2 linked regions of the Homo sapiens genome follow. The protein of the gene in region 1 binds, or shares a complex with, the protein of each later gene. Links are inferred from orthologs where the notes say so. Each region holds a gene or a part of one and is shown in the gene's direction. Other genes may lie near its edges. The genes, in order: BBS7 and ARL6.

Region 1 (12,074 bases):
TGAAGATCAGAGAAGTATGAAGATAAGCCTCATGGTATCCACACCATGTGGATAAAAAGCTGACTTTTTTTTTTTTTTTTTTTTGTCCATGCCCCTCACAACTGTAGAGCTCTTAACAGGCATTTTTTCTTTATTTACTATGTACAAACTGGTATAGTTTTAATATTTCATCTTTTTCCTTATTCATCATTTCAAGGTGTTGTTTCAGAAGAAGGTGTGATGACAAGGTGTAGTGAGTGTGGTTGATGTTTTTGATGCCCTGCCCAGATGCCCTCTACTGGACCAGTGCACCTGTCTCCCAGATTCTCCTGTGCAGTTCCTAGCCAATCACTTCCCCTGGAGAATTGCCCTCAGCTAAAAAGAAGAAGCCTTGCTCGGGATGTGATGCCTCCGCCTCCCCATGGCCAGTGACTGATGGGTGGGGGCACAAAGGGCTGGCCCCTTGTCTCAAGATGGGGCCAACTATTCAGTGCAGTTCATGCTCCAGAGCTCCTGAAAGGATTAGGGTGATGCCAGACTCAAGCTGAGATGAAATCCTGGTTTAGATTCTTCCTCTGCCTTTTCCAGTTTCCTTCCTTCCCTTTCTCCAGAGAGCATCCCCTTAATGAGTCACCACATCCAAATCTTATTAGGTTTTGCTTTTAGGGAACTCACACTAAGCCATAAGGTATTAATGTGGTAGCATACGGTTGAGATGAGGATTAGTCGAGGGGATTGCTGTCAGAATTAGTCCTTCACTTGAGGATAAAGATAGCTCTGGGTCAGCAAGTCTTTTCCCTAGTCACTTTTAACAGGTACCTTTGGGAAAACAAACCTCAAAGAAGTTGTTGGGGCAACTCAGAGAAGGGAGCATTTAAACAGGACCAAAAACAACTTTATAGAAAAAAACATTAATTAAAGGATTGTCAAAGCCCCAGGACTCTTTTTTCCTTAGGACATCTCTCATTTTTTACCTCTTTGCTATTCTTATTTTTTTCTCATTTACAGATAAAGAAAAGAAAGCAACACTCAAAGTGCTTCTTAGACTTATTGTTCGAAAAGTTGGGTACTTTGTAAGTGCCTGCTGTATTGAATTTACAGAGCACCCATGACTTTATGGAAGTCACAATCTGTTGAAAAGTTTGGGTTCTTAGACTTGAAATAATGAGAAAACTTTGAAAAATGGTACAGAGTATCTTTACAGAGTTTATGCACAATAAAAACAAAAATGATATGTTGTGATTATTAAAAGCAAATTTGGTACAATTTAGGATAACTATCTTACCCAATATGTCAATATATTTATATTTCAAATGTGCAAGCCAAGTGAAAGCAGCTTTTGTAAATGGGAAGATAAATTGTCTGATGGACAATGTCTAAAGAGAACTGAAGCCACACTAATGACTGTGGTATGGGACAAACCATTTAACTTCTCTGGTCTTCATAAATGGTTCAGGCAAACAGGGTTATGCTACATCAGGGGTTCCTAGTCCCTGGAGCTCATAGAGGTGTTTTAGGAGGTTAATGTCATCATCCAAGGTGGTAATCTTTCTTTCCATGTCTTTTTAAATTTTTTAAATAAAGTTTTTAAAATACATTTTTAGAGGCGGGTCTCACTATGTTGTCCAGGCTAGTCTTTAACTTTTGGCCTCAAGCGATCCTCCTGCCTCAGCCTCCCAAAATCAGGCTGGGCACAGTGGTGCACACCTGTAATCGCAGCACTTTGGGACGTTGAAGCAGGTCGATGGCTTCAGTTCAGGAGTTCGAGACCAGCAGGGCAACATGGTGAAACTGTCTCTACAAAAAATACAAAAAAAATTAGCCGGGCATGGTGGCATGTGTCTGTGGTTCCAGTTACTCAGGAGGCTGGGGTGAGAGGATAACTTGAGCCCAGGAAGTTGAGGCTGCAGTGAGCTGGTTCACGCCACTGCACTCCAGCCTGGGTGACAAAGTGAACCACCCCCCACAAAAAAAAAAAAAAAAAAAAAAAAAAATCTAAAATGGGTATTTATAACTTTGTTCAGTTTAAAAAAGAGTTTGAGAATTTCTAAATTTATACCATGTGTTAGGGGAAACTAATGTTTTTACTCATGACTCAGTCACTCAGCTGACCACCACTAGCGTGTTGATGGTTTTAACTTTAATGCAGTTTAAATTGCTTTTATTTTTAGCCATAAGTTGTTTAACTTATACTCATAATGGTTGCTTTAGCACCATAACATAAGGTTATAAATTACTGAGGTGCATGGTAATTCTGCAAATTTGTCTCTAAAGTGGTCTTTGTCACATCTGAGAGGCAGCCATCTTCTGTTGAGTTTTATAAAGACCACCAAGATGTCTCTGATACCCTAAAACATCTTTAAAAAGAGGACACACAGTGGTAATTTAACTTGACATTTTCTTTATTGTGAATAAAAATTCCTTACCCTGCTAATTAATTATTTGAGGAATACTTAAAATTAGTAGGTTGAAATCTTTACTAATCATTTAGAAACAAAACATAGTATGTACTTTAAAAATAATAAATTGCATTTTTAGATGCAAAATCAAAGAATTCCAAATATCATATTATGCAAACTTTTTGTATTGTTTTGATGCTATATCATAGCCTCATTTCACTGTTTTAAAATAAATTTGAGCTTCAAAATAAACTTTTACTTTCCTTCTACACAATTAATTGAACAGTGGACATCACTTGCTAAATGGAAAGTAAGCACTGCCAGCATTGTCTGTCTTTGGTGTTTTTTTTTTTACCTATTTATTAGAACCATAGTATTTCTTCATTATTAATTTGTATGAACTATTTTTTAAGATATTAACTCTTTTCTCCTATATTTTTGTTTTCATTTAAACATTGTTGTGACATATTGAAATGTTTATCTTTACTTTTCATTTTTTTTAAGTTAGTTTTTTGTTTGTTTTTTAGAGATGGGGCCTTGCTATTTTGCCCAGGCTGGATTGTTGGGCTCAAGCAATCTTGAGCCTCAGCCTTCAAATAGCTGAGACTACAGGCATGTAACACCATATCTGCTTTTTTCCTTTGTGGTTTCTTCTATTCCTTTTGAGATCAGTTTCCTTCTGTTATGGGCTGAATTGTGTCCCCTCAAAACTCATGTTAAAGTCCTCGCCTTCAGTATCTCAGACTATAACTATAGTTGGAGATAGGGTCTTTAAAGAGGTAATTAATTTAAAATGAGATAATATGACTGGTGTGCTTATAAAAAGACAAGATGAGACACAGACAGACATAGAGGGAGGACCACGTGAAGACACGGAGAAGATGACGATCTATAAGCCAAGAAGAGAGGCCTCTGAAGATCGGTTTTATTCCCTGCTGACACCTTGATCTATGACTTCTAGACTCCAAGACTGTGAGAAAATAAATTTCTGTTGTTGAAAAGCCTCCCAGTGTGTACTACTTTGCTATGGCAGCCCTAGCAAACTAATACTATATCCTCCAACCTCCAAAATTCTGTAAAATGCTATACAATTCTATTTTCTTCTGTCTTTTCTATGGCTTTATTTTTCAGTTGACTTCTAAAATTTATTTGTATTTTTTTCTTGAATCTAAATTGATATATATTTCCCCCAAATTGCTGAACAGCTAACCCATCTACATGTATTGTCTATTTTAATGTGGGATTATTTTAGCCTCAGAGATATAATTGTCTGGAACACAGGGAAAACTTTTTCAGATATTGCTGCAGTAAATAACTTCTCTTCTTAAGAAGCACCTCTTCTCAGGGATTTAATTCTTTTTGTTTCACAATTATTTGTGAACTCTTTCCTGGAAAACCACAGTGGCTCATGTCTGTAATCCCAGAACTTTGGGAGGCTGAGGTGGGCGGACCACTCGAGCCCAGGAGTTCAATACCAGCCTGGGCAACATGGCAAAACTCCATCTCTACAAAAAAAAAAAAAAAGAAAGAAAGAAAAAGAAAAACCACAAGAATCAGGAAAGTAGCTGTATCTGAACTTATCTGTATTTCCCCAGGCAGAGCTCTATGCACATTAAGGAAGGACCGATGAAAGTGAGTCAAAGAATGTCAGCTCTTAAATCCTGGGTCACTATGGGTCAGTAGTAGTCTGTGGGGCCCCGAGGGGCAGGGGTGGTTCCTGAGGCCTTTTCACAGCTGTCTGCAATTTTGAAACTATTTTCATAACACTAAGTTGTGATTTGCCATTTCACTCTGCTGACATTTGCACTGATGGTACCGAAACAATGGTGGTTAATACTGCTAGTGCTTAAGCATAAATCAAAATAGTGGCTCCAAACTGTACTAGTAGACACCATATTCTATATAACATGCACTGATAGGAAACAAAAACCATTTCATATAAAAATGTTCTTAACGAAGCAGCAACATTGTTAATATTATCTTTTTTTCTTTTTTCTTTCTTCTGATTCAGCCCTCATTTATTACATCTTAACTCTTGAATATGTCTTTTTAAATGTTCTATGTGAGGACATAAGAAGTATGTATAAAATCCTTCTACTGAATACTGAAATACATTAGTTGTCTCAAGGAAAAGCACTTGTGGGATTGAGCTGCTAGCTGAACTTCCTGCTTTTTTCATGGGACACTTTTTATTTGAAGGAATTACTCACAAATTATGATTATTCAGACTTAGATATCTGGCATTTACTTTCTTGTGAATTCAAGAAGGGAACCTATCAGTTCAAGGAAAACAATCGACATTTCTTGCCAATGTGTAAATTTCAAACTTTCAAGCACAAATTTGAATTTTGGAAAATATGTATTCACCATCTAAGTTTGACAGATCTCCCATACTCGGGACTTTACTGATGAGATCCATGGTGATACTAACAGATGGAATTTTTTGATGTTGTGTAACAAAGTCACATTTCACATTGCAACTAACCTTTCAAAAAACTACTACTTGTTGAGTTTGGACCAAATTTTCTTCATATACATGAACAAAAACAACATATAACAATAGATTGAATGCAGTAGCAGATTTGAAGCTCCTCCTGTCTACTATTAAAATGGACAGAAAATAGATTTGCGCACAGTACCAGTTATTTTATTTTTTTATTTTGGAAAATATTTTTTTCATTAAGATATTTGTCATAGGTTTTTAAAAAACACTAATTGTTTTCAGTTCTAATGTCTAATATGGTAAAAATCAATAGGTAACTCATATAAACAAATGGTCTTTATACTTTCCAAAGCAATCTACAGATTCAGTGCAATTCCCATCAAAATATCATTACTACTTTTCACAGAACTAAAAAAAAAATTCTAAAATTCATATGGAACCAAAAGACAGCCTGAATAGCCAAAGCAATAATAAGCAAAAAGAACAAATCTGGAGGCATCACGTTACCACACTTCAAATTATACTGCAAGGCAAGTTACCAAAACAGCATGGTACAGGTAAAATAAATAAATAAATAAATAAAGACACATAGACCAATGGAACAGAATAGAGAACCCAGAAATAAAGCCAAGTACTTACAGTCAACTGATCTTCAACAAAGCATACAAAAACATAAATTGGGAAAAGGGCGCCCTATTCAATAAATGGTGCTGGGAAAACTAGTTTAGCCACAGGTAGAAGAATGAAACTGGATTCCCATCTCTCACCTTATACAAAAATCAACTCAAGATGAATCAAAGACTTAAATCTAAGACCTGAAACCACAAAAATTTTAGAAGATAACATTGGAAAAACTCTTTTGGACATTAGCCAAATGCAACAAAAACAAAAATAAATAAATGGGACCTAAATAAACTAAAAAGCTTCTGCACAGCAAAAGAAATAATCAGTAAACAGCCCATAGAGTAAAAGAAAATATTTTCAAACTGTGCATCTGATAAAGGACTTGTACCTAGAATCTACAAGGAACTCAAACAAATCAGCTAGAAAAAAACAATCCCATCAAAAAGTGGGCAAAGGACATTTTTCAAAAGAAGATATACAAATAGCCAACAAACATGAAAAGATGCTCAACATCACTAAATCACCAGGGAAATGCAAATTAAAACCACAGTGAGATACCACCTTACTCCTGCAATAATGGCCATGAGGCAGGCGGATCACGAGGTCAGGAGTTCGAGACCAGCCTGGCCAACATGGCAAAACCCTGTTTCTACTAAAAATACAAAAATCAGCCAGGCGTGGTGGCGGGCACCTGTAATCCCAGCTACTCGGGAGGCTGAGGCAGGAGAATCACTTGAACCCGGGAGCCGGAGGTTGCAGTGAGCCGAGATAGTGCCATTGCACTCCAGACTGGGGGACAAGAGCAAGACTCTGTCTCAAAAAAAAAAAAATAAACATAAAAAATAAAATTTAGAAAATATACGTTGGTGTCGATATGGTGAAAAGGGAACACTTTTGCACTGCTTGGGGGATGTAAATTAATACCACCACTATGGAAAACAGTATAAAGTTTCCTTAAATAAATAAATAAAGGTGGAGCTACCATTCAATCCAGCAATCCCACTACTGGGTATCTACCCAAAGGAAAAAGACACATATACACGCATGTTTATAGCAGCATAAGTCGCAATTGCAAAGATATGGGGCCAACCTAAGTGCCCATTGACTAACGAGTGGATAAAGAAAATGTAGTATATATACACCATTGAATACTACTCAGCCATAAAAAGGAACGAAATAATATCTTTTGGCAGCAACTTGGATGGAACTGGAGGCCATTATTCTAAGTGAAGTAACTTAGGAATAGAAAACCAAATACTGCATGTTCAGTTATGAGGATGCAAAGACATACAGAGCGATATAATGGATTCTGGGAACTCCAGGTAGGGAGGAGATTGGGAGCGGGGTGAGGGATAAAATACTACATATTGGGTACAGTGTACACTGGTGGGTGACGGGTACACTAAAATCTCGGAATTCGCCACTCAAGAGCTCATCCATGTAACCAAAACCCGCCTGTACACCCAAAACTATTGAAATAAAAAAAACATTAAAAATGAGAGAAAACCCACAAAAAGCAAATGGTCTTTGTGCTCCTCAACGGTTTTTAAGAGTCTTGTAAATAAGTCCTAAGGCCAAAAGTCTAAGAACCGCTGCTGTAAGCTAGCACCTATAACGGTGGAACCTAATTCTTTGTAGGACCCTTTCCAATGTCAGAGTGAAATCGGTCAGAATCTAGCAGGCTTATCTAGTTTTTTCTACAGCGATAAGGAAAGAAGTCCAGTATTAGCCCTGGGCCGCGGTGAGGGTGGAGCCAAGACTGCGTCTGGGGTCTCTGTGGAAACCGCCCTGTATGGGTCTCCCGGACCTCGCCTCTTTTGTTCCTCTCCGCCTCTGATTGGAACACGCTGTCAGTGGGCGGTGCTTCGGGAAAGGGGCGGGCCTTCATCTTCTTCCAGGAGCCCCTCGCAGCAGCGTACTGACGTCACGCAGGACGCCACTGCCCTGTCGCCCCGCCTGTGCAGCCCAGGACCTAGGCGCGGTAGCTGGGGCTGGCTTTTGAGGGGCGCGGGCAGCCTTCTGACTGGGTCGGAGGCCTGCGGGCCCGAAGCCTCTGTCCCTCCTGTTCTTGTCCGGCGCTGCTTAGCCCCTCCGCGTAGTCATCATGGATCTGATTTTAAACCGAATGGATTATCTGCAGGTAAACCCAAGGGATAGGGCGGGCGCCGCGCTGGGCAAGCCCAGCACCCGGAGAGGATTCCTTCCTTCCACTGACGAAAGTCTCGGTCGCCAGGAGCTGGTGCGGAGGCGAAGGAGCCGGGCTGGGTGCCGACCTCTCAGCACCCCGCCTTTGGGCAGCTCCCTTTCGTCTGTGACGGTCCGAGGGGACCGGGGAAAAGCGGCACAAGCCCCCACGGTACTGGCTTCTGCCGGGTCCTGAGGATGCTCTGAAAATGTGACACTGTCTCATCCCGGATTCCCCCCAGGGCCCTTCTCCTCCTCCCTAGCCGTGGCTGCCTGAGGGCCTCTAATCCTCAATCTCCATCTCTACCCGGACCCTTTTGCGGAGCACCAGGCACTTGTTTCTTACTGTGAGCTGTACCGCACCAGGCAGATCATGGTAAAAGCAATGAAAACCGGGCCGGGGGCAGTGGCTCACGCCTGTTATCCCAGCACTTTGGGAGGCCGAGGCGGGCGGATCACCTAAGGTCAGCAGTTCGAGACCAGCCTAGCCTACATGGTTAAACCTCTTCTCTACAAAAAGTACAAAAATTAGCCCGGTGTGGTGGCGGGCGCCTGTAATCCCAGGTACTCGGGAGGTTAAGGCAGGAGAATCGCTTGAACTCGGGAGGCGGAGGCTGCAGTGAGCTGACATCATGCCACTGCACTCCAGCTGGGGCGACAGAGCGAGACTGTCTCGAAAGGGGGAAAAAAAGCAATGACAACAGTTTAATGTGCATCTAGCTTATTCTAAGAATTTAGCATACCTACCAACATATTTAATCCTCATAAGAATTTGCAAAGTAGACAATATTATAAATGAGGATCTAAGGGGTTAGAGAAGGCAAGTAATTTGCTTAATAGCTAAAAATTAGGGAGTGGCTATTTGAATCAAAGTCTCGGACTCCAGAACTGGTGTATTTTTGTTACACTACACTGCCTTTCAGAATTTCTTTCAGACCTAAAATTCTCTCTACCCCAATTCCTCATCATATTTTTAGGCCACCTCATTTTAGTTAATGGTACAAATGTTTGCCCAGTCAATTTTCTAGGGGTTTATGCTATGTACTTCCATATCCAACTGGTCACCACATCTTACTGCTTTTAACTCCCAAATATCTCTTGAATCTGTCCCATATCTTCCATCTCTATTACCCTCATTTGGGTTCTCATCTTCTCTTGCTTGAATAATTGAAATAACCTCCAAATTGGGCTCCTGAACTCCAGCTTCATCTCCCTCCAAGCCATCCTTCACATCACTTGCTAGATTGATGTTTCAGAAATACAAATCTAAGCAGATGACTTTAATACAATTTTCTGGAATGCAGAATAAAGTCATTTATACTATATGAACGTTTTATCATGATGTGTTGTTTTCACCAATTCCTCTCCCATTGGTCCCATCCTCTTCTCCTAACTATACACCAGCAGTGACAGTTCCCTGCTGCTTTCATCCTCTGTATTTTTTTGTAAAATAATCTTCACCTGTTAGATTGGATGTTATGGCCATTATCATATTTGGTATTTTAGCATAAATCTTCTTTTTTTTTTTTTTTTTTTTTTTTTTTTTTTTGAAACAGGGTCTTGTTCTGTCACGCAGCCAGTCTGGAGTACAGTGGCATGATCATGACTCACCACAGCCTCAAATTCCTGGACTCAAGTTATCCTCCTGCCTCAGCCTTCCAAGTAGTTGGGCCTGCAGGCATGCACCACCATGCCTAGCTAATTTTTTATTTTTTGTAGAGACAGAGTCTCCCTGTGTTGCCTAGATGGTGTTGAACACCTGGGCTCAAGTGATCCTCCCACTTCAGCCTCCCAAAGTGCTGAGATTACAGGCATGAGCCACTGCATGTGGTCTTCCGTTGCATTTTTAATAACTATAATCTATTTTCAAAGTTCTTGAATCACTTTGCTGAACAACTGTATGCAGTTGGAAAAGAAGGCTTCTAGAGATATTTTTTAGTAAAGCATCTTGCCAGTCATCTTACACAACTATTTTTGGCTTGACAACTTTATAGGATAAATTTTACTATTTTGGTTGTTTCCTATATGTATTCTGACTAATATGACATATCTCATTAGAAAATAAATTAATTACTGATAATAGTTATATCACTAATTTCAGTTTAACAAAAAGGTTCACTATAACTTATTTTAATCTCTGTAATAACTTCAAATTAAATTCACTAGGCATCTGGTGTTTTTCTTTAGGTGGGAGTAACATCTCAGAAGACTATGAAGCTAATTCCTGCCTCAAGACACAGAGCTACACAAAAGGTACTGTATAGATTCTGATTTCTCCACTATTCCCTAGCAGTGACAGAGGAGAGGCTCCTATTTCCTTCTTTATTATTAAGTTATTCTCTTAAAAATGCTAATGTTAAAATGGAAATGAATTTTTTAATTTGAACAGAAACTGGAATACCAAGGGACATTTATAGACAATAATTTTCTTGGACATTAAAATTATTATATACCATTAGTAAACAGTGTAGGCAAACTTAAAAACCATACTCCATTTTTTCTGTGTGTCAGATGTGTATATGAAAAAAGAAATATAAAGCAGAATAAGGTATCAAGAAAATGTTCTCTTTAAACTTTCTCATATTTTAAAGTCATTAAATATTTTGATGTTAAACTGTACTTAACTAACAATATTGATTATGTTTAAAGAAATGTTGATCCTATGATTTCCACAAAACAATTATAGTTTCTTAGTAGACTAGCCAAATATTTTAATAGCTGCAAAAAAATACTTTATCCTGATATATAAACATTTTAGCAAGATGAATCAACAATTACACATAGTACTAGAAGTCCTAGCCAGAGCAATTATACAAGAAAAAGAAATAAAGTGCATCCAGATTGGAAAGGAGAGTCAAATTATCTCTGTTTGCCGATGACATGATCCTATATATAGAAAAACCTAAAGACTCTACCAAAAAACTCTTAGAACTGACAAATGAATTCAGTAAAGTTGCAGGATACAAAATTAATATACTGAAATTAGTAGTGTTTCTATACACAACAAACTAGCTGAAAAAGAAATCAAGAACACAATCCCAATTATAATAGATAAAAGATAAAATACTTAGGAATAAATTAACCAAGGAAATGAAAGACCTCTATAAAAAAAACTATAAAACACTGATGAAAGAAATTAAAGAGGATACCAACAAATGGAAAAACATCCCATGTTCATGGATTGGAAGAATTAATTTTGTTAAAATAACAATACAACCCAAAGCAATCTACAGATTCAATGCAATCTCTATCGAAATACCAATGTCATTTTTCACAGGAAGAGAAAAAAAATCTTAAAATTTGTATGGAACCACAAAGACCCCAAATAGCCAAAACAATCCTGAGTAAAAGGAACAAAGCTGGGGCATTACACTACCAGATCTCAAAATATACTACAAAGCTGTAGTAACCAAAACAGCATAATACTGGCATAAAAACACAGAGACACAGAGAACATAAAATGGAATAGAGAACTCAGAAATTAATCCACATATCTACAACCAACTGATTTTTGACAAAAGAGCCAAGAACAGCCCCTGGGGAAAGGACAGCCTCTTCAATAAATGGTGCTGGGAAAACTGAATATTCATATGCAGAAGGATGAAACCAAGACCCCCACCTCTCACCCCATATAAAAATGAACACAAAATGGATCAGAGACCTAAATGTGGCCAGGTGTGGTGGCTCACACTTGTAATCCCTGCAGTTTGGGAGGCCAAGGCGAGTGGATCACTTGAGGTCAGGAGTTCAAGACCAGCCTGGCCAACATGGTGAAACCCTATCTCTACTAGAAATACAAAAAAATTAGCTTGTCATTGTGGCAGGCACCTGTAATCCCAGCTACTCAGGAGAGGAAGACTCCATCTCAAAAAAACAAAACAAAACAAAACAAAAAACAAAAAAAGACCTAAATGTTAATGCTTTAGGACATTGGTCTGGGAAAATAGTTAATGAATAAGACCTCAAAAACACAAACAACAAAAGCAAAAATAAACAAGTGGGATCATATCAAACCAAAAAGCTTCTACACAGGAAAGGAAACAATCAACAAGAGTGAAAAGACAATCTATAGAATGGGATTTAAAATATTTGCAAACTACTCATCCAACAAGGAATTAATATCCAGAATATACAAGGAACTCAAACATACCAATAGCAAACAAACAAGCAATCTGATTAAAAAGTGGGCAAATGATCTAAACATTTCTCAGAAGAATACATACAAATGACCAAAAAAACATGAAAAAATACTTAACATCATTAATCATCAGGAAAATGGCAAATCAAACCACAATGAAGTATCATCTTACCCCAGTTAGAATGGCTGTTATCAAAAAGACAAGAAAACAAAAAACCAAAAAACAACAAATACTGGCAAGAATGTGGAGAAAGGAAACTCTTCTGTGCCATTGGTGGGATAGTACATCCACTATAGTGAACAGTAT
Region 2 (11,773 bases), on another chromosome or scaffold:
ACAATACAAGGTACTGTGAAAAACGAATATTCAAGCATCAGGCTTTAAACACTCAGTGCTTTATAGTAGATGCTTAAAGGGGGGAAAATGTGAGAAGTTGTCGTTTTTAAAACATAAGTTCTAAATTATGAAATGGAGAACAAGATATAAGCATTTATATCAATATGTTTATGCAGTAAATAAAGTGAGTAATAGCAAATTTACTTTGAAATCAAATGGTATGTGTGAATTGCTTCATGACATCAGAAGGTTAATTTAAAATAGATTTTACAAATGCTGGTCCTTAAGCTGTAATTTAAAGAAATGGACTGAATAAGATTTGAATCTCTGATACAAGGAGAAAAGCAGATTGAAGTGGCACAAATGGAAGTACCTGAGGTCAAACTCATCCTTGGGGAAAGACAAACGTGGTTCTGTAATAGGCCTCACCTTTTGGCATGGCACTGTTCCATCTCTTCTCTGCACATCACTGAAATTTAGTTTTGAAATTTCTACCCATAATCATATCCCAAAAGGCCTAAGCAAAATGTTGACTATGCAACCTCCTTTTAGATACAGTTGTCTTGGAAGCCTGTTATTGATAAAGTTGCTGCAGCCTCACATCCTTCAAGGTATGGCCTTGCCTGAAATTGTATGGAATAAAAAGTATTGAAGAAACTGTAATATGACAGGTTGCTTATGCAACCTTAGATGGAGATGAGAATAAGTCAATTTAATGAGAATAAAAACATTAGAGAACTAATGTTGGTGAGTAATGAGAAATATTTGGTACATAGATATATTGTAGCAGTTCCTGCAGCAGTTGGGGGCTGGAAAAAGGGATCTATCTCCCTGTCCTTCTACCACAAAGTAATGGTTTGGGGAGCAATGGACCCAAAGTGAGCTCCTTTGAAAAGTTTAGTTTGGAGACCTGAAGTGTAAATTTAACAGTACCTTAGATGAATATAAACAGCCATAAAGTTACCACATAGCAAGTTTTATGTACACAGCAGTTTTATTTGACTTCCAAATACTTCTATTTTTGGATTGCTGATAGTTTTTTTTTAAGTTTGCATTAGAAAGAATTTTTTTTTCAAAGAATCAATACAATTGAACAAGAGAAATGAACACTTTAGGGACAAGTTAACAAAGAAATTTTTAAGATACTTAAAAAACTAAATTAAAATCTACAATCAGTATTTACTTCCTTATTCTATACTAATACGATAAAGTCCTTTTAAAATAGCACTTAGGAGGATGTTTCAGATAAGTTACAGTTAAAAAACAGATATTTAGTAAGGTTCAATAAATTGAATGTGTGTATGTATTTATGCATAACCTTCTTCACAAAGGGATTTGTGGTGACTTACAAAGATGTATGTATAGGATAAGGGGAAATAAGGATAAGTATTTCAGGATTCTTTGCTTCTACTGAGAGAAAACCCTACTTAAACTGGAAATAACCAAGCAAGCAAAAAAAAAGTGAATTTATTGTAACTTCATATTATTACAAAATATAACAATGGGGCTGGCTTCTGATAAAGATTTAACAGTGGCTTAAATGATATCACCAAAATCTCAAAATCTGTCTGCTTTTCAGATCTGCCTTCTACTTTCTGCCTTCTACATGAACCCCATTGCCCATTCATTGTTTCAGATTTTCTGGAAAGGCTACGGCCTAATTCTTCCATATTTTCAAGTATCACAATTCGCAGACTCCAAATGATACTGAGGCTGACCATGTTTTATTCTTAAATATGATAAATTACAGAGAGAAATGTTGTTATTTCCAAGGCATTGTTCTGTGTTGCCACCTGTTATAAGCTGCAAATCTGCGTGTCAGTTAAGGCTCCTTTCTGGTAATCAGCTTACACTGTGTTTACTAAGTGCAAAGCTACATTGACATAGTTTTCACACTATTATTATGTGTATTTAAATTATTACCTTTTTTTAATACACCTACCAATATTTTCCATAACTTAAGGTGCCTTTGGGTAATATTTTATTTTTTCTTAATTGCAGCTGGTTTGTAAATATTTGAATCACATTATGGGATTGCTAGACAGACTTTCAGTCTTGCTTGGCCTGAAGAAGAAGGAGGTTCATGTTTTGTGCCTTGGGCTAGATAATAGTGGCAAAACGACGATCATTAACAAACTTAAACCTTCAAATGTAAGTATCTTTGTTAGATGCTTTATGTATTTTCTGCTACTAAAGAAAATTAATGTGCAGAATTATGTTATATGACGTTAAAACCGCATATAATCACATTAAGATATTCTGTTAACCTTTCAGTACCTTTAAGTATCCTCAGCCATAATTTGCAGTATATTTTACACAGTAAATTTTAATTATTAAACTGGAATATTATTTTCAAATGTCTTTTCTTTCAAAAGTTCTTCACAGATTTACTGAGTTTACTTTAAATGTCATTGCCTTCTTTTTAGTTTCCTCCTTACAGGAGGAGCAAAACAGAGAAAGGTGAAACATTTTTATAGGTTCTATGGATAATTAGACAATTTTTGAAAGTATAGTATGCATATTAGTAATAGTAAGCAAGATGATTTTAAGCAACAAGTGTATGGACATATTGTAATAACTGAAAAATATATAAAGCTAGCACATTTAACATGTGATGTATAAGTTAAAGTTAAAGTCTGCTGCATATAAAGAAAGCCTATCTAATAGGGCTTTCCTAATTTCTGGCACCAATTCCTGAGCCTTTATGTTTGGACAACTCTCCTGCCTTATCAGAAAAACTGACCTCCAGGTCCAGAGAAAAGTGATTGGCTTTGCTTTTTTTTCTTTTTTTTATGGTAATGGTAACAGCCAAGGAGCCACTTGAAATGGGACTTCTTGAGGGGTTTCAAACCTCTGTCACTCAGTTATAGATGTAGATACAACACTTGCTCCCTTCCTACACCAAGCTCAAGAAGAGTCTCTTGTAAGCTTACATCCACTACTAGAACATTATTTTTAAGGAATTAAATAAAATAAGTACAGAAATGTACAATGCTGTGATAGGAAATGCCTTGCAAAAAAATAGTGCCCATCTCATTTTATAGTAAAATTGTCTCATTTTTGTGGATAAAATCAGTTTCTAGGTAAGTAGTTCTTTCCTGGACACAAACTAGTTTTTCATATTAAGCTATCTTTATGTTTATTTATTGTTAATGTACTGAGGTTGCTGGCATTTTAGAATAGGGAGAGAGGGAGGACATTTTAATCTGATCGCTTTTTTCAAGAATCTAGTCTTAGCTGTCATTTTTTTAGAGATAGACTCTATATACCTTTTTCAAAAATTTCAATCTTTATTCCACTACCAATCTTTATTGTCACATCATCCAGTTTTTATATCATTTTTTATTGATACAAATTTAGGGGTTACATGTGATAGTTTGATACATGCATACAATGCATAATAAATCAGAGTCACTGGGATATCCATCACCTCAAAAATTTATCTTTTTTGTATGTTCAGAACATTCTAATTCTTCTTTTCTGGCTATTTTGAAATATCCAGTAAATTATTGTTGACTATAGTCACTCTACTGAATTATCAAACACTAAGTCTTATTCCTTTATCTAACTGTATTTTTATACCTATTAATGAACCTCTCTCCACCCCTCTCTCCGCCCTACCCTTCCCAGCCTCTGGTAACCACCTACTCTATGTCTCTATGAGATCTACTTTTTCAGATCCCACAAACAAGTGAGAACATGTGATACTTGTCTTTCTGGACCTGGCTTATTTCACTTAACTTAATGACCTTCAGTTCTCTCCATATTGCTGCAAATGACAGGATTTCAGTCTTTTTTATGGCTGAATAATATTTCATTGTGTATATGTACCAAATTTTCATTATCCATACATCCATTGATGGACAAAAGTGTATTCCATATCTTGGCTATTGTGAATAGTGGTGCTATAAACTTGGGAGTGCAGGTATCTCTTTGATACATTGATTTCCATTTTTTTGGATATATTCCCACAGTGGGATTGCTGGATCTTATGGGAGTTCTATTTTTAGTTTCATGCGGAAACACTATACTGTTTTCCATAGTGGCTACACTAATTTGCATTCCCACCAACAATCTACGAGAGTTCCCCCTTTTCTACATCTTCACCAGCATTCATTATTTTTTTGCCTTTTTTGATAAAGGCAATTTTAACTGGGGTGAAATAATATCTCATTGTAGTTTGATATATATTTTCCTGATGAATAATGATGAGCATTTTTTTCATATGCCTGTTGGCCATTTGTCTATATTCTTTTGAGAAATGTCTATTCAGATCTTTTACCCATTTTTTTAGTCAGATTTTTTGTGTTTTGTTTTTCCTTGCTACTGAATTGAGTTCCTTCTGTATTCTGGTTATTAATCCTTTGTTGAGTGGATATTATGTAAATATTTTCTGTAATTCTGTAGATTATCTCTTCACTTTGTTGATTGTTTCCTTTGCTGTGTAGAAGCTTTGTAGCTTGATATAGTCCAATTTGTCTATTTTTGCTTTTGTTACATGTGCTTCTGAGGTCTTACTGCCCAAATCAGTGTCCTGAAGCATTTTCCCTGTGTTTTCTCCTAGTACTTTGATAGTTTTGGGTCTTAGATTTAAGTCTTTAATCCATTTTTAGTTGACTTTTGTATATGGTGGGAGATAGGGGTCTAGTTTCAGTCTTCTACATGTGTTTATCCAGTGTTCCAGCATCATAAGACTATCCTTTTCCCAATGTATGTTCTTGGATGTCTTTTTGGAAAATGAGTTGGATGTAAATACATGGATTTATTTCTGGCTTCTCTGTTCTCTTCTGTTGGTCTGTGTGTGTGTGTTTATGCCAAAACTATGCTGTTTTGGTTATCATGGCTTTGTAGTATAGTTTGAAGTCAGATAGTGTGGTACCTCCAACTTTGTACTTTTTGTTCAGGATTATTTTGGCTATTTGGGGTCTTTTATGGTTTCATATAAATTTTAGGATTCTTTTTATATTTCTGTGAATGTTATTGGTATTTTGATAGGGATTGCATTGACTCTGTTAATCTCTTCGGGTGGTATAGATATTTTAACTGTGATAATTCTTTTAATCCATGAGCATAGATAGAATAGCTTTTCATGTTTTTGTGTCCTCTTCAATTTCTTTTATCAATATTTTATAGTTTTAATTGTAGAGATCTTTGGTTGGATTTATTCTTAAGTATTTTATATTTTTTATAGCTATTATATATGGGATTACTTTCTTGATTTCATTTTCAGATTGTTTGTTCTTGGTGTATATAAATGCTACTGATTTTTATATGTGGACTTTTGTATCCTGAAACTTAACTGAATCTCTTTATCAGTTCTAACAGTATTTTTGGTAGAGTCTTCAGGTTTTTCTAAATATAAGAACATGTCATCTGCAAACAAGGATAATTTGAGTTATTTCTTTCCAATACTGATGACCTTCATTTTTCTTGCCTAATTGCTCTGGCTGGAACTTCTAGTATTGTTTTTGAGTAAAAGTGGTGAAAATGAACATCCTTGTCTTGATCCAGGTTTAGAGGAAAGGCTTTTAGTTTTTCTCCATTCAGTATATTAGCTCCACCAGTATAATATTAGTATATTAGCCATGGTTTTGTCATTTATTTAGCCTTTATTGTTTGAGGTATGGTTCTTTTAATCCAATTTGTTGAGAGTTTTTGTCATAAAGAGATGTTGAATTTTATCAAAAGTTTTTTCAACGTCTATTTAAATGATCATATGGTTTTGTCCTTGATACTATTAATCTTATGGGCTCATATATTGATTTGTGTATGTTGAACCATCCTTGCATCCCTGGGATGAATCCTACTGATCATGGTGAATGAACTTTTTAATAGGTTGTTAGATTCAGTTTTGCTAGCATTTTGTTGAAGATTTTTGCATCTATGTTCATGAGGGATATTGGCCTGTAGTTTTATCATTGTATTCCTGACTAGTTTCGGTGTCAGATTAATGCCAGTTTTGTAAAATGAGTTTGGAAGTGTTTCCTTCTCTTTACTTTTTGGGATCGTTTGAGTTGAATTAGTATTTGTTTTTTAAATGTTTGGTAGAATTCCATAGTGAAGCCATCAGGTCCTAATATTTTCTTTAATGGGAGACTTTATATTAGTGCTTTGATCTCCTTACTCATTATTGGCCTGTTCAGGTATTTTATTTTTCCATAGTTCAATCTCAGTAGGTTGAATGTGTCCGGCAATTTATCCACTTCTATGTTATCCAATTTGTTGGCATGTAGTTTTTCATAATAATCTCTAATAATCCCTTGTATTTCTGTGGTATCAGTTGTTATTTCTCATTCTTAAGTTCTAATTTCATTTATTTGGATCCTCTTTTTTTTTCCTAGTTTATCTAATGTCTTCTCAATTTTATAATTTCAAAAAGCCAACTTTTTGATTCTTTGATCTTTTGTATGTTTTTAGTCTCACTTTCATTTATTTTTGTTATGATCTTTATTTATTTCCTTCTATTAATTTTGGTTTAGATTTGTTCTTCCTTTTCTGGTTGTTCGAGGTGCATCATTGGGTTATTTGAAGGCTTGTTACTTTTTTTTTTTTTTTTTTTGAGATGGATTTTTGCACTTGTCGCCCAGGCTGGAGTGCAATGGTGTGATCTCGGCTCACTACAACCTCTGCCTCCCGGGTTCAAGCGATTCTCCTGCCTCAGCCTCCCAAGTAGCTGGGATTATAGGCATGCACCACCATGCCCTGCTAATTTTGTATTTTTAGTAGAGATGGGGTTTCTCCATGTTGGTCAGGCTGGTCTCAAACTCCGACCTCTGGTGATCTGCCCACCTCGGCCTCCCAAAGTGCTGGAATTACAGGTGTGAGCCACCACGCCTGGCTGCTACTTTTTTGATGTATGTGTTTATTGCTATAAACTTCTTGGTTAGTACTGGTTTTGCAGTATCCATAGATTTTGGTATGTTGTATTTCCCTTTTCATTTAAGAATGTATTAGTCAGGGTTCTCTAGAGGGACAGAACTAATAGGATAGATATCTATAAAGGGGAGTTTCTTAAGTGGTATTAACTCACACAGTCACAAGGCTCCACAATAGTCTGTCTGCAGGCTGAGGAGCAAGGAAGCCAGTCTGAGTCACAAAACTGAAGAACTTGGAGTCCGATGTTCAAGGACAGGAAGCATCCAGCATGGGAGAAAGACGTAGGCTGGGAGGCTAAGCCAGTTTACCTTTTCACATTTTTCTGCCTGCTTTATATATTCTGGGCGCACTGGCAGCTGATTAGATGGTACTCAGCCAGATTAAGGGTGGTCTGTCTTTCCCAGCCCACTGACTCAAATATTAATCTCCTTTGGCAGCACCCTCACAGACACACCCAGGATCAATACTTTGCATCACTCAATCCAATCAAGTTGACACTCAGTATTAACCATCACAAGTCCACCCCTTGTCAATACACATCTCCTGAGATCATACATAATGTTCAAATAAGGACAATAATAAGGTCATAATTATGCCTAACATAATACAACTATCCTTCGTACAACCGGAAATATACCAATCCCCAACCCAAATGCTATTACATAAAGTCAACAGTATTTAAATGCTGAAATGAAGTTAATAAATCTTATGTCACATGATAAAGGAAAAAGAAAATAAAATGAATATATTTTCATAGTACAAGTTTATATGTACACAAACATGTTTTTAACAAAAGGAGGAAATACTCATGGCAGTTACAGTCTTTGTTTCTGTAACTGGTCATGTGGTCACAGCTGGTATTGATGACTACCTTCTTCTACTACCTATTCTGTATTCCCTTTGCCTTCAGCAGGCACCTCAGCAGGTGCTGCTTTTGTTTGTTTGTTTGTTTGTTTTTCCTGGTGGAGTGACCCAAACCTTCATTCCTGGAGGGTCTGGTCCATATGTAGTCCTGCCAGATTGGGCTGTTGTAGTTTCCCATTGACCTTAATCACAGGGCATGGTAATACAAAGAGATGCCCTAATGGATCTCCTATATTCCATACATACTCTTCCTTACCTCCGTTGTGGAGTGATAGTCTGATTTCATCTTGATAGTCCCGGATAGTCACCCCAGCCAACACTAACTCCCTTCTTAGCTTGTTGACTTAAAGGTAGGAGGAGCCTGTTCTCCAGATTACTGTTTATATAAATTAGAAAACTCGAGCAGTTCTTTTTGAGTGTAGTGCACCACCTCATGGATCACACTCTCAACCTTACCTCTGGGGCCCCCCCAGGATTTTAGTTATAGTTTAGTTATTCCGGGATTTTAGTTTAGAATCCCCCCGGGATTCTAGAAGCAGGCGGGGGTATTGAGGGTGACTCTTGAGGAGAATCAACATTATCTTGCCTGGCAACTGCCTCAGGGGAGGCCATCACTGTTGTCCCAGGCAGCGCAGGGTTTATCTCCTCAGACAAAGGTGGAAAGGCTGATGGCAGCATGGGTGGGGGAGGGGATGTTGCCACTACTGGGAATGGGGAAGCTGTTTCTTCTGGCAAAACAAGGTTCATCAGAGTTTACAAGCTTGGTGTCCCCAGCTTCATCAGGGTCCTCCCACACATCCCCATTCCAAGTTGCAGAGTCCCATTCTTTTCCAATCAATGCCCTCACTTCAACAGTAGGTACCTGGCGAGGCTGTGCATGCACCTTTCATTGCAGGTCAGCAACTGATATAAGAGCTTGTGCCTGTTTTTCCACAATTTCAGCTCTTTCTCTACAGGAGATAAGACTCTCACTCAGGGCAGTCTTAGCAGCTTTGAGGCTCAGTATGTGCTTCTGAAGCTGGGAGTTACAATCCCTGAGTTCATAATTTTCTTTCATTACTTTGTCCAGTGAACTTAAGAGCAACCAACCAACTTCATTATGTTCCTTGGTTCTCCACATATAGTCAAAGGTATTATGTATAGAGTCACTAAACTACTTACCGCTCACGAGCAGTGAATCAAGAGTGTCAAATGCATTTATTTTGCATAACTCTCTAAACAGTTCGTGCCAAGGACTATCAGTGTTCTCCATACTATTAAAAGTAGAGTCCTTAGCATTTTGGGGTCTAATCATATTAAGCAGCCAACTCCAGAAACCCCAAAACCAATGAAAGAACTCCATCCTTAATATTCTGTTCCTCTAGAACCACTCCTGGTACCAAAATCTATATTAGTCAGGGTCCTCTAGAAGGACAGAACTAATAGGATAGATAGATATACATATAAAGGGGAGTTTATTAAGTAGTATTAACTCACGTGATCACAGAGTCCCACAATATACCATCTGCATGCTGAGGAGCAAGGAAACCGGTCCGAGTCCCAAAACTGAAGAACTTGAAGTCTGATGTTCAAGGGCAGGAAGCATCCAGCACGGTAGAAAGATGTAGGCTGGGAGGCTAAGCCAGCCTAGCCTTTTCAGGTTTTTTTTTTGCCTGCTTTATATATTCTGGCCACACTGGCAGCTGATTAGATTGTTCCCACCCAGATTAAGGTGATTGTTCCCAGCACACTGACTCAAATGTTAATCTCCTTTAGCAGCACCCTCACAGACACACCCAGGATCAATACTTTGCATCCTTCAATCCAATCAAATTGACACTTAGTATTAACCATCACAAAGAACTTTTGAATTTCCTTCTTAATTTCTTCATTCACCCATTGAATATTAGGAAGCATGTTAATTTCCATGTGTTTTTATAGTTTCCAAAGTTCCTCTCATTATTGATTTCTAGTTTTATTCCATTGTGGTTAGAAAAGATACTTGATATGATTTCTACCTTTTAAAATTTGTTGAGATTTGTTTTGTTGCCTAACATGATCTATTTTAGAGAATGTTCCATTTGATGATGAAGATAATGTATATTCTGCAGCTGTTGGATGGAATGTTCCATAAATGTTTATTAGGTCCATTTGGTCTAGAGTTCAGTTTAACTTGGATTTCTTTTGTTGTTGATTTTTCTGTCTGAATGATCTGTCTATTACTGAGAATGGGGTGTTGAAGTCCTCTGCTGTTATTGTATTGCAGTCTTTCTCACCCTTTAGCTCTATTAATGTTTGGTTAATATATACGGTGTTCCCATGTTGAAGGCACATATATTTACAATTGTTATATTCTCATTCTGAATTTACTCCTTTTTCCTCATATAGTGATTTACTTTGTCTCTTTTTATAGTCTTTGACTTGTAATCTGTTTTATCTGATATGAGTATAGTTAATCTTGCTGTTTGTTGGTTTTCATTTACATGGAATGTCTTTATCCGTTTTGTTTTCAGCCTGTGTGTATCTTCATAGATGAAATGAGTTTTTTGTGGAAAGCACATAGTTGGGTCTTATTTTTTTTTAATCCATTCAGCCACTCTGTGTCTTCTAATTGAAGAATGTAGTTCATTTACATTTAATACTATTACTGATAGGTAAGGACTTACTATTGCCATTTAGTTAATTTTTCTCTTGTTTTGTAGCTCCTCTTTTCCTTTCTTCCTTTCTTAAGGGATATTACTTGTGCTAATCTTAGTACTGGATATTTGTTTTTGGTTTTCTGTGGGAGATAGTGAAGCCTAATTGCTTCTTGCTTCTACTTCATTTTGGTGATGTTACCCTTATTCTTTTTGTTTATTTATTTATTTTTTTTTTTTGAGACAGGGTCTGGCTCTGTCACCCAGGCTGGAGTGCAGTGGCACAATCTTGGCTCATTGCAACCTCCATTTCCCGGGTTCAAGTGATTCTGCTACCTCAGTCTCCTGAGTAGCTGGGATTACAGGCACGCGCCACCACACCCCACTACTTTTTTTGTATTTTTAGTAGAGACGAGGTTTCACCATGTTGGCCTGGCTGGTCTTGAACTCATAACTTGAGGTGACCTACCCGCCTTGCCCTCCCAAAGTGCTGGGATTACAGGCGTGAGCCTCCGTGCCTGGCCACCCTTATTCTTAAAATTTAAAACAATCTAAAATTGTTCAGTTGATAACTTGCATATTCATTTGATAACTGGCTTATTAAATTTCTCCCATTATAAACGAGCATAGATTTTTCTCTTCTTCAGCAGTGAATCCCAGATACCTAGAATAATGCTTGGCACTTTGGATGAGTAGATTGATGGATGATTTTTTAATATTTAGTTTTGGCCAGGGGATTATGATTGATACCACCAAGGATATCATTTTTATCAGACTTAATGAAACTAACCAAATAGGATCTCTCTCAGAAATCTTATTCTGTTCCTGTTTATGTTGGTGTATCCTTGAACTGTCTCAGAATGTTTTGTTCCACTAAGGCAATACGATAACCACAGGAGATTTGTTCCAGGACACACATTCCCACCCACCCCCTTCCACCCTCCTACCTATATAAAATGGTATAGTATTTGCATATAACTTATGCACATCCTCCTGTATACCTTAAATCATCTCTAGATTACTAATAATACTTTAATACAATATAAATACTATGTAAATAGTGTTTATTGTATTTATACATTTGTAATATTTTTATTGTTAAATAGTATTGTTATCTTTTTTAAATTATTATTTTCAATTCATGTTGGCTAAATCTGTGGATTTAGAAGCTATAGATACAGAGGGCTGACTGTAATTCCTATACTCTTTGTTTACTTTGTGCCATTCCCTGTCCAATTTTCAGAATAACCAAATGTATTTGTTCTTGGATAGAGCAGAGGGAGATTGATATTGTAAACTATCTTTTGGAATATGTTAGAGGAAAATGAGTTCCACTTCAGTCTGGAAGCAATTGCTCACATATCTTGTTCTACCCTAATTAATTTGTGAAGTTTCTTTTTTTTCCTGATTACTTTCTG

What was found.
Region 2: the proteins of BBS7 (region 1) and ARL6 are in contact, whole or in part, in a cryo-EM structure (PDB 6VBV), measured with the Bos taurus proteins. The link is inferred for Homo sapiens from one-to-one orthologs. Residues at the interface, in NP_001178275.2 of Bos taurus: Leu3, Ile249, Val250, Gly251, Asp300, Gly301, Tyr302, Asp303, Thr319, Glu320, Pro321, His323, Lys324, Glu325, Ser326, Gly327, Pro328; in NP_001069250.1 of Bos taurus: Met132, Asp133, Arg135, Thr139, Ser140, Val141, Ser144, Trp157, His158, Ile159, Cys160, Ala161, Asp163, Lys166.

Annotation. Positions count from the first base shown.
Region 1 is NC_000004.12:121,865,789-121,877,862, reverse strand, and holds the start of BBS7 (BBSome complex member BBS7), read left to right. Parts: upstream 1-7,388; 5' UTR 7,389-7,549; coding exon 7,550-7,585; intron 7,586-9,816; coding exon 9,817-9,882; intron 9,883-12,074.
Region 2 is NC_000003.12:97,766,080-97,777,852, forward strand, and holds part of ARL6 (ADP-ribosylation factor-like protein 6), read left to right. Parts: exon of another isoform or gene 1-10; intron 11-552; exon of another isoform or gene 553-611; intron 612-2,001; 5' UTR 2,002-2,028; coding exon 2,029-2,151; intron 2,152-11,773. UniProt on the Homo sapiens protein: Involved in membrane protein trafficking at the base of the ciliary organelle. Mediates recruitment onto plasma membrane of the BBSome complex which would constitute a coat complex required for sorting of specific membrane proteins to the primary cilia.